Linked DNA regions of Homo sapiens. The protein of the gene in region 1 purifies or fractionates together with the protein of each later gene. This does not show direct contact. Each region holds a gene or a part of one and is shown on either strand. Other genes may lie near its edges. The genes, in order: RASSF8, CEP44 and PRKCI.

What was found.
Region 2: the proteins of RASSF8 (region 1) and CEP44 purify together in Homo sapiens (co-immunoprecipitation; 2 studies listed by BioGRID and IntAct, with this or other methods). This does not show direct contact.
Region 3: the proteins of RASSF8 (region 1) and PRKCI purify together in Homo sapiens (affinity purification with mass spectrometry; 4 studies listed by BioGRID and IntAct, with this or other methods). This does not show direct contact.

Annotation. Positions count from the first base shown.
Region 1 is NC_000012.12:26,052,682-26,056,340, forward strand, and holds part of RASSF8 (ras association domain-containing protein 8), read left to right. Parts: exon of another isoform or gene 1-315; intron 316-2,554; 5' UTR 2,555-2,662; coding exon 2,663-2,765; intron 2,766-3,659.
Region 2 is NC_000004.12:174,304,411-174,308,069, reverse strand, and holds part of CEP44 (centrosomal protein of 44 kDa), read right to left. Parts: intron 1-3,659. UniProt on the Homo sapiens protein: Centriole-enriched microtubule-binding protein involved in centriole biogenesis. In collaboration with CEP295 and POC1B, is required for the centriole-to-centrosome conversion by ensuring the formation of bona fide centriole wall.
Region 3 is NC_000003.12:170,302,416-170,306,174, forward strand, and holds the end of PRKCI (protein kinase C iota type), read left to right. Parts: intron 1-624; coding exon 625-712; 3' UTR 713-3,562; downstream 3,563-3,759.

The DNA.
Region 1 (3,659 bases):
ACAGCTCCTAGAGTGGAGTATTTTGGGCTGAGACGATGGGGTTTTCCAGATATTGGATCATGTCATCTGCAAAGAAAGACAACTTGACTTCCTCTCCTCCCATTTGACTACACTTTATTTCTTTCTCTTGCCTGATTGCCCTGGCCTGAATTTCCAATACTATGTTGAATTAATGACTCAATATATGACTAAAAGTTCAAAGTGAAACAATGATAATTCAGATAGGAAAATATGTGGCAGTATGCTAAAGTCTAAAAAGGAATATAAAACGTCTGTGAGATACCTAACATCAGATTTATAGAAACAGAATAGAATGTAGGTTGTTGGGGGCTGCGGACAGGGCGAAATGGGCAGTTGCTTGTAGAAGGGGTATAAAGTTTCAGTTACACAATTATGAGTAAGTTCTAGAGATCTGCTGTCCAACATGATGCCTGTAGTTAATAATACTGTATCATGTACTTAAAAATGTGTTAAATGGATAGATCTTATGTTTTCTTCCACAATTGAAAAAAAAAAAAGTCCTATAGAATCATTTGAAATGATGGGTTTCTTGGTGGCAGGGGGGCTTTAATGAGATCTGTACCCTTTCTTGCTTGATTTCCCAAGTTTAAGATATTTTAATGAATAAGAAGGCACTTTAAATAGACTTTAATCCAGCTTTTACAAAAATTTAATAAAGCAATATATTAATCTTAGGCCATTTTTGATACCTTAATTTTATCCCAAGAAAGAATAAAACATATTCTATTTTTAGTAAGTAGAGTGCCTCGCAGAAGAGGAAACAAGTCAGAACTTTTCTGTTTTCTTAAATGTTCTCTAGATTGGGCAGCATATAAAACTCTCCTTTGAAATTTAGAGTGCACACCAGCCTATTAAAGTCTCAGAGAAGTCTAGCTGTAAAGGAACTTGTTTAACTTTATTTACTGGCTTTCTTAACATTTCTTTAACTTTGGAAGCCTTTATCCCCAGGAACTTTAACATCTCACAGGCCCTCATAACTGAGGAGCACAGTTATGGAATCAGCTTGTCATTGCCAAGGTGGCCCCTTCTTTCTTCATACAGGGGATAATGAAACCTATGCTGTGTCATATGCAGAGAGCTAAAGCAAAGTGCTAGGAGATTAATGTTCAGCCAGGCCTTTCTTGTTTTTAGGATGACAAAAAGGATTTGTGTACCTTCTCTGGAGAAAATAATTAGGTTTATTCTCCTTCCCCTTGCATGTGTTCTGACTTACCTATCCAGGTGACCAGATGGCCTAGAACTGTCTTAGGTCTTTTAAAAGAATGTGCAAGGGACTAAGCCACTGTTTGTAGTAACTACTGTTTTACAAGAAAAATTTCTAGTGTTTTTAAAATAAGCTTTTAAATAAGCCATTAATTCTGAAATACCAGTGCCACTGTAAACCTATAAACAAATCCAAATGTTCTCTTAATTAAATCAATGTTTATTATATCTCATGAATTTTAACAACAAAGACGTGGGAAGACCACAAAACAATGGACAAACAAAAAATCAGATTGATTAGAGAATTTACATAGGAAGAGTTGAGAGTTTTTTTAAACCCACAGGAAAAAGAATTGTGATCATTTTTAGCAGGCTAGTAACATTCTTATCGATACAGGAAATAAAGAATATTTGGTTTGACTATATGACAAAGTAAAAATTTCTGCTTTGCTTATAATGCAGCCAAATACAAAATCAAACACTGGGTAAACACAGCAAGTAGAACAAACGGTTAATGTTTATATTTTTTGAATAACTCTTGTAATTTAAGAAAACTATCAAACCCAGTTAAATGAGAAAAGGATAAACAGTTCACACATGAGGAAACTGTTGGTCGTCAAAGGAATTCGTTTCCTTTGACTAAGATTTTTTACCCACCTGCCCTCATGCTGTGCCTGGTGTTGGCATTTCAGCGGGAAGACACTCTTTGTCCTGTGGGGAGAGGGAGGCAAGGGACACATTTAAAACAGTTGTCAAGACATCATACATGAGAAGAGAGAATGAAATAATAAGGGAAAAAAATATTAGGAAGGCAGACAGGTAGCAGTTTTTTTGTTTGTTTGTTTGTTTTAAATCAGGAATGTGAGCTGAGTAAGATACTTTGACAACTGTTCTTAAATTTGTTAATAGTATTGGCAAAACACTGCACACTGCAAAGTGGTTCAATTTTATTGATAATTCCTAAAATGACAAACTTTTTTTCTTTAGTTTTGCCTCAGAAATTATCCTAATGAAATAATCCAAAAAGAAAAAAAACAGGACAGAAAAACAGCGCATATATTGAATAGGGCTTGGCAACTAAATAGGAATTTTTAATGTAATGGAGCATGAGTTCATGATTAAAATTATGATAAAAATAGTTGTAACATGAAACACTGTCATGATAGGTGACTGTAGTTGCATTTGTGTTGCTTAATTCATTTCTGTAAAATAAGCCTGTGTACTTCAGTAAGATTATGATATGTTAAAATTTGTTTTGTGTAATACTTACATACTTACTAGAAGAAATGTTGATTCATTTTATTACAAGTGATTTTTTGCCCTTTTTTAGCTGACTACACAGACTTAGTCTTCTCCACTCCGTGTTCCTGCAGCTAGAGACATGACCTAACACCCTGATGACCACTCTCAGGGACCTTGAGTGACTGGCCGGTGCACCATGGAACTTAAAGTATGGGTGGATGGAGTTCAGAGGATTGTTTGTGGAGTCACTGAAGTCACAACTTGCCAGGAGGTTGTCATAGCCTTAGCTCAAGCAATAGGTGAGTGAACTCTGTGGGTATCTGAGAAAAGTACATTGTGCTTTCTTTCGTTGTATGTGTTTGTTTTAAATATAGATTTCTAGGGGATTTTGTTCATTTGGTTCCATAATAAGTCTCACAGGCACTCTTGTACTTATTACAGTTTGCCTGTGTTTAGGTACATCTGTGATGATGCTTGTTCTCTGACACCCCTAGATTTTACTAACCCTGAGTTAACATCTACACTGCCTTCTCCTCTCCTGTTGTTCAGCCTAAACAGTGACTTCTGAAACTAAAGATGTTTCCATGAGCCAAAATTTAGACCCAGATTAAGAATTTAGATTCTTAGTTCCCAGAATCCCTCATTAGGAAAAATCCCACCTATTGTTTATTTCTCCATACTTTCAGAAAATACAACAAATGAAATAACATCGTTCTTCACTGGAAAGATAATGTATACTTTTAAAATCTTATGATTGGCTGGGCATGGTGGCTCACGCCTGTAATCCCAGCACTTTGGGAGGCTGAGGCAGGCAGATCACTTGAGGTCAGGAGTTCGAGACCAGCCTGGCAAACATGGTCAAACCCGTCTTTAATAAAACTACAAAAATTAGCCGGGCGTGGTGGTGCGCACCTGTAATCCCAGCTACTATGGAGGCTGAGGAAGGAGAATGGCTTCAACCCAGGAGACAGAGGTTGCAGTGAGCCAAGATCATGCCACTGCACTACAGCTTGGGTGACAGCGAAACTCGGTCTCAATAAATAAAATAAAATAAAATCTTATTATACAGTGAAAATGAAGCACAGCTCTTGGCTTCATGTTATTCTCCCACCATGTTTTACCCTTTCTTCTTATTTATTTTAAGCTTATCTTCATCATAGTTTATGTATATTTAGTTGCCTTAAATGATGAGG
Region 2 (3,659 bases), on another chromosome or scaffold:
CTTTAGGTCTTTGAGGAATTGCCACACTGTCTTCCACGGTGGTTGAACTAACTTACACTCCCACCAACAGTGTATAAATGTTCCTTTTCTTCCACAAACTCACGAGCATCTGTTATTTTTAGACTTTTTAATAATAGTCATTCTGAGAAGCGTGACATGGTATCTCATTGTGGTTATGATTTGCATTTTTCTAATGATCAGTGATGTTGAGTTTTTTTCATGTGATTATTGGCTGCATGTATACCTTCTCTTCAGAAGTAGATGTTCATATCCTTTGTCCACTTTTTAATTAGGTTGTTTTTTTCTTGTAAATTTGTTTAAGTTCTTTATGGATGCTAGATATTAGGCCTTTGTCAGATACAAGTTTGCAAAAATTTTCTCCCACTCCGGAGGGTGTCTGTTTACTTTGCTGATAGTTTCTTTTGCTGTGTAGAAGCTCTTTAGTTCAATTAGATCCCATTTATCAACTTTTGCTTTTGTTGGAATTGCCTTTGGCGTCTTCGTCATGAAATCATTGCCGACACCTATGTCCTGAATGGTACTGCCTAGGTTGTCTTCCAGGGTTTTTATAGTTTTGGGTTTTACATTTAAGTCTCTAATCCATCTTGAGTTGATTTTTGTGTATGGTGTAAGGAAAGGGTCTAGTTTCAATCTTCTGCATATGGCTACCCAGTTATCAAAGCACCATTTACTGACTAGGGAATCCTTTCCCCATTGCTTGTTTTCATCAGGTTTGTTGAAGATCTGATAGTTGCAGGTGTGTGGTCTTATTTCTGGGTTCTCTATTCTCTTCCATTGGTCTATGTGTCTGTTCTGGTACTAGTACCATGATGTTTTGGTTACTGTAGCCCTGTAGTATAGTTTGAAGTTGGGTAGCATGATCCCTCCAGCTTTGTTCTTTCTCCTTAGGATTGCCTTGGCTATTTGGGTCTTTTTTGGTTTCATATAAATTTTAAAGTAGTTTTCTTTAGTTCTCTGAAGACTGTCAATGGTAGTTTAATGGGAGTAGCATTGAATCTATAAATTGCTTTGGGCAGTACAGTCATTTTAACAATATTGATTCTTCCTATCCATGAGCATGGAATGTTTTTCCATTTGTTTGTGTCATCTCTGATTTCTTTGAGCAATGGTTTATAGTTTTGCTTGTAGAGATCTTTTGCCTCCCTTGTTAGCTAGATTCCTAGGTATTTTATTCTTTTTGTGGCAATTTTGAATGGGAGTTTGTTTGTGATTTGGTTCTCAGCTTGACTGTTGTTGGTAGATAAGATTGCTAGCAATTTTTGCACATTGATTTTGTATCTCAAGACTTTGCTGAAGTTGCTTATCAGCTTAAGAAGCTTTTGGGCTGAGAAGATCCTCCTACAATTATTTTAAACATACAGCAATTTTGCAAAAGGAACACCAATCTTTAAAAATTAAAAAAAGTTTAAATTATCACATATAATATATATATCAAAATATTACCATTACTAACATTACCAATAATTTATGTGTGATGATAAAATTGGGGTTATGACTTTTAAAACAATTCTTACATTTTAGGACAAGCGCTGAAATATTTATTAAATTATGTCTGAGATTTGATTTAAAATAAAGACAAAACAAGATTAGCAAAGAGTTGATAAATTGCTGAAACTGGATGATGGGTATGTTTGTAAATGTTTGAAATGTTCCATAATAAAAAGTTATTTTTAAAAAAGATTGCCAAATAATTCACTTATAAATAATCAAAAACTGGCTCTATGAGTAGGGCTCATTACAATTTTTCTGTTAAACAAACTGCAATTTATTAGACCTTCAGCTAACAATTCAAACCTAATAATGACAACGAAGAAGTCCTGACAAAAAAAGCATTAGGTCACGGTATGCATTTACCTAGAAATCCTCTACCTGCTTCCTATTCTACAGTTTGCATACACACTATAAAAACATATGTGACTCAGAAGCGCAAATAGGCATACTATATAAGGCACTGGGATAGGAGACAATTTGCTTTAATATTGACTCAACTTTTGCTTGTAAACAAAGAAATGTACTTGTAGACTCTTTTCTAAATCTGAGAACTTTTAATACTTATTCAAATTTCTGATAAAGATCTGGTATAAATTTTAATAGATAACAAAGAAAACTTTGCTTTAAGAAAATTAAAAATAAGTCTAATGTTTTGAAGTTTACATTTTTCTTGGCTAGGACAATTTACACTGTCCCCTCAACTCTCATACTGAAATAGAACATTGAAAAGCACATTATATCAATAAATAATTAATAAGTGCTCACAGTGTTCCTAATCCTGTGCTAAGCAAAATGAAGGTACAAAAAATCAGTATAAGAAAATCCCTGTTCATATATGTTCCTTCTAGTTGGGGAAGAATACAAGATATAAGTCATTTAACAGTTAGAAAATCATAAATAAAACTAACAAGAGTTAGATGAGTTAGAGATGCAAGTGTACAAAAACTACATGCACTTATTCAAAAATGGCGGCTTTGTATCATTCTTTATATTGTCTTCATTACCTAGAGCAAAACAGGTACATTAAAAAGAAGTGGCATAAGAACATTTTCTTATAATAAAATTTCACTTTTTTAAGGTATAAAGGAATAAACATATTTTTTTGAGATGGAGTCTCGCTCTGTCAGCCAGCCTGGACTGCAGTAGTACAATCTCGGCTCACTGGAACCTCTGCCTCCAGGGTTCAAGCGATTCTCCTGCCTCAGTCTCTCAAGTAGCTGGGGTTACAGGCACCAGCTACCACGCCTAGCTAATTTTTGTATTTTTAGTAGAAATGGGGTTTCGCCATGCTGGTCAGGCTGGTCTCAAACTCCTGACTTTAGGTGATCCACCTGCCTTGGCCTCCCAAAGTGCTGGGATTACAGGCATGAGCTACTGTGCTAGACCCAAGAATAAATTTTTAAAATAGATTCTGTTTACATAACTCATGTATTTTGGATTAGGGCAGAAATAATACTCTAGATTATACTTCAGTCAGAAAGTATTCACATCCTTTACTTAATTACACCATTGATAATTCATCTGATATTCTATCATTCAATCAGAGTCTTCTCCAGCTGGAAGACAGCTGAAAATATATTAATAAATAATATTTTAGCTTAAGTCTCCCTTAGTGATAGAAACACTGTAGCTCTAAGTGCATTAGATTCAATTTGCCACAGCTGCTCAAAGCAGATAATGGCAGAAAAATTATCTTTCAAGAAAGAGAAAATATTCAAAATATTAACTGAAAACCAGATTCTACGTGTAGGGACTACCAATTATTGGATAATTCATACTTGGTTACAGAAATATAATGTACATAAATGAATCATTATAACCTATCACTACTGCTAATGTAGGCTCTTCATATGTTCCCATGTTTTAGGAAGACCAGAACACAATTAAGAGCAAATGTAGATAACTGCATAAGATAATCTTCCTAAATCACTACTCTTCTGTTTAGGAAATCCGGCAGAATTAGAAATTAGAAATATAAAGAGAACACGTATTTAATTTTATATTTCTATCCTATTGTTATAACTTCAGGCATACTGCCCAAAAATATATGGCATGCACTGTTAAAAATCAATGAACTCCAATATCTAACTAGAATGTTCATCAGGTGCCAATCAGAAAAGTGAAAACTGTATATTGGATTAATTAGA
Region 3 (3,759 bases), on another chromosome or scaffold:
TTGAAGGAAGGGACTGTATCCTCTGTAACTTTGTGCTTCTTAGTATGGCATAATACATTTATGTATTAAATATTTGATAGCACTACTCACTGTATATTAAAGTAGAAGCCCAGTGTAACAAAATGCCAACCTCTCCCCTCTCTGTGACCCATGATCTCCCTGCGGTGTTCTCTCCTCATTCCAGGTCTCTCAGTGTACTTGTTCCTATTGCCTTTTCCTTTTGGCTAACTTCTTCTGGGCTACACTATCTAACATCTGGCTGTTGAGGTGACTACTAAATTGAATGCTAATTCAAACCTGGATGTTCACCTGTAACTAGGAATGTTGTTCTGGTCAAAAGTTAAGATTAACTGGAATGGTGACAACTGGTGTCTTTTTTATTCGCAGTCCTCAGTTTTGAACTCCTTTTTGGCTCTAAACTTGCTTGTGGGATTATCGGGGTTTTTTAAATTTTCAGTACTCCATTCTTGATTCGTCTAGAAAATCTGGGGGATTAATCTAAAAATTTATAGATTTCCTTTCAGTACAATTAGCCTAATTACTTGATTTTTAATCTTATTTTACCATTTAAAGGTTGAAGAAATCTTGATTATGATGAAAATAAATTTATTTTTCTTTCAACAGTGACATTGTGAGGAAGATTGATCAGTCTGAATTTGAAGGTTTTGAGTATATCAATCCTCTTTTGATGTCTGCAGAAGAATGTGTCTGATCCTCATTTTTCAACCATGTATTCTACTCATGTTGCCATTTAATGCATGGATAAACTTGCTGCAAGCCTGGATACAATTAACCATTTTATATTTGCCACCTACAAAAAAACACCCAATATCTTCTCTTGTAGACTATATGAATCAATTATTACATCTGTTTTACTATGAAAAAAAAATTAATACTACTAGCTTCCAGACAATCATGTCAAAATTTAGTTGAACTGGTTTTTCAGTTTTTAAAAGGCCTACAGATGAGTAATGAAGTTATCTTTTTTGTTTAAAAAAAAAAAAAACACTGCATTAAAAAAGTATCTGTTGCATTAAGGCACATAGTGGGATTACATCATAAACCTCCCATAATTTTTGTCATTCTGTGTTAAATCATTTCAGGGTTTAATTTTGAAATAAAAGATTAATATAAAATGCAACAACTTTTTATATTACCTATTAGTTTTGGAGTTCTTTATGTTTAAAAATTCAGGTGTAAATTTTATTGCCTTGGATAAATAAATTATTGATCTTTTTTAAGGCAGCAGTTATTAAATTGGTAATAGAAGATGCTGCTTGCTTAGAATTGGGAAATTCGGCTGGGTGCAGTGACTCAATGCCTGTGATCCCAGTACTTTGGGAGGTTGAGGCGGGCAGATCACTTGAGGTCAGGAGTTTGAGATTGGCCTGGTCAACATGGTGAAATCCTGTCTCTACTAAAAATACAAAAATTAGCTGGGCATGGTGGCACATACCTGTAATCCCAGCTACTCGGGAGGCTGAAACAGGAGAATCGCTTGAACCCAGGAGATGGAGTTGGCAGTGAGCCAAGATTAGCCTGGGCAACAGTGAGTGAGACTCGGTCTCAAACAAAAACCAAATTGGGAAATTCTTCTTGAGTTAAAAAAGACACTTTTTATTATGAATCAGATTCCAAATCATTAACTATTTTTGCAAAACTGGCACAAGTGGTTTTTCTTTTTAAGTATATTAACAGGGTAGCTCCTGAGCCTTTCCCTTTATTGGAAACTTTAACTGCAGTGTTAATATATACACTGCAAAAGACCAAGGATGCAGTTGAATGGAAAATTACTCAGTGTATAGAAAGGAAAAAAACCAGAAATTTAAAATAGATACAGAAAAGTACACTGGTAATATTTTTATTTCCTATTGGAGAGTGAATCCCCACAGTTGCTTTTTGTGACTTGATTCAAATGAGGCACTCATTATTGTTACCAAACTTGTAAAAGCATTCCATGTATTCAGTGGAGGCAGAATGTATAATATTTTTTCCTTATAATTTAGCATACAGGAAAAGTATTTATTTTTTAAGTAGGGTATCTTAATTATGCTCATTTCTTCCCCTAAACCACATTATCTATATGATTGGACCCTTTAGTGAAATCAGAAAAATAAAGTAGGCATGAATAAATGTTCAGGACACACACATACACTCACACACATCACAGTATCAGCTCTTTCAGTGAGTTTTTATTAACTAGATAACACATGTAATACATAGTAGAATACATTTCAGAGGCAGAGTTCCTCGGATTATTTTTTATGGATATTAGTGTTCAGCAGCTTATTATTTAAAGGGGTGCCAAATATAGCATCCTTCTGTTGTTTATTTTAAATATATTTTTAATGAAAAGGGACTTAAAAAGTAAACATGATTATCTAAATTACTTAAAATTTTTTAATCTTAGTAAAAATTTTAGGAAAGTTATCTAGTTTAAATTTCAAATGTTTTAAAATTTGTAGGCATTTAATAAATTATCTTTTTTTGGAGGGGTGGATGCTGCATTTCATTGGAAATGTCATTTTTCCAAAGTTTCTAGCTATATACTCTCTTTCCTTCAAATAACATAAGTCTGAAAGCAATGAAAACGTCAAAGGAAAATGTTTATATACATCCACATGTTTATTTAATATGTTTCTCTTAACACCTGAAACTTGTTTTAAAACAAAAAGCAGTATTCACTTCAAATCATAAACTTAGAATTCTGTATCTCATGTCAGAAATATGTTTATGGCCTTGCTTTTAAGTGGTGCTGTTTCCCATAGGGCATTAGTTCTCAGATTTTGGAATGTGAAATAATCACCTAGGAAGTTGGTTTAAAATGCACACTAGTGAGCCCACCTTAGACTTCTTTTGGGGCCTTCGACCTCACTTTGAGAAATACCTTCTTCAGGTTATTCTTTATGTTTGTCCTGTGGTTAAATATTAGAGTATTCATGATAAAACATTTTGAGAAGGGGTAAGCAGTGAGTTATTACCCACAATTTAAAGCAAATTTTGAATGAATCTTTAAGTTAGGTATCTACCTTCCCACCAGCCCCCCAAAAAACCTCTCAGTAGTTTCTTTCAGTGTACAAAATGATGAGCATTTTTCTATGATGAGGTTTTAACCATTATTCAGGGTGGTCTTTTGTTTTTAAATCTTTTTTTAACTAATAAGATTTACGGTGTGTATTTTATACAGAAATGCATTATAAATGTTTTTAATTGTGTTCTGTTTTTTGCAGTCTTTAAGTGCCATGCCAATTGTTCTTATATTCTATAGAAGTTCGCTCAAAATACTCAACAGGGGAATAGGCAGCGGACAGTCAGAATGGTTGGAATTTTGGCTTTCTAAGAAAAACTTTATTTTGCATAAGCATGTGGTCAGATCATTTTGTGCATATGCAGCCTGGATTGGATGTTAAGTAAATGCTTGTTCAGTGCCGGTACATTTACTTAAATCTGTTTTTATTTTTGTCATGTAGAATACTACTGTGGTCATCATAATGTAATCTATTTCTGTACCTTTTTTTTTTTTTTTTACTTTGAAGTCTTTAAATAAAATGTATAATACCCATTGAGAGTGGATCATTTTTCATATGTAGTATGTCAGAAATTTGTATAAGAACAAAGATGCATCAAAATTTGTTCAAGAAAAAGTGAAAATTTCAGAGTTTGGAATTTTGCTGTACTTAAAGCACCATTCTGGTAGAACTGATGCTGTCGTATTTACATTTAATAATGTTACATTTAGCTGGACATAGTGGCTCACAC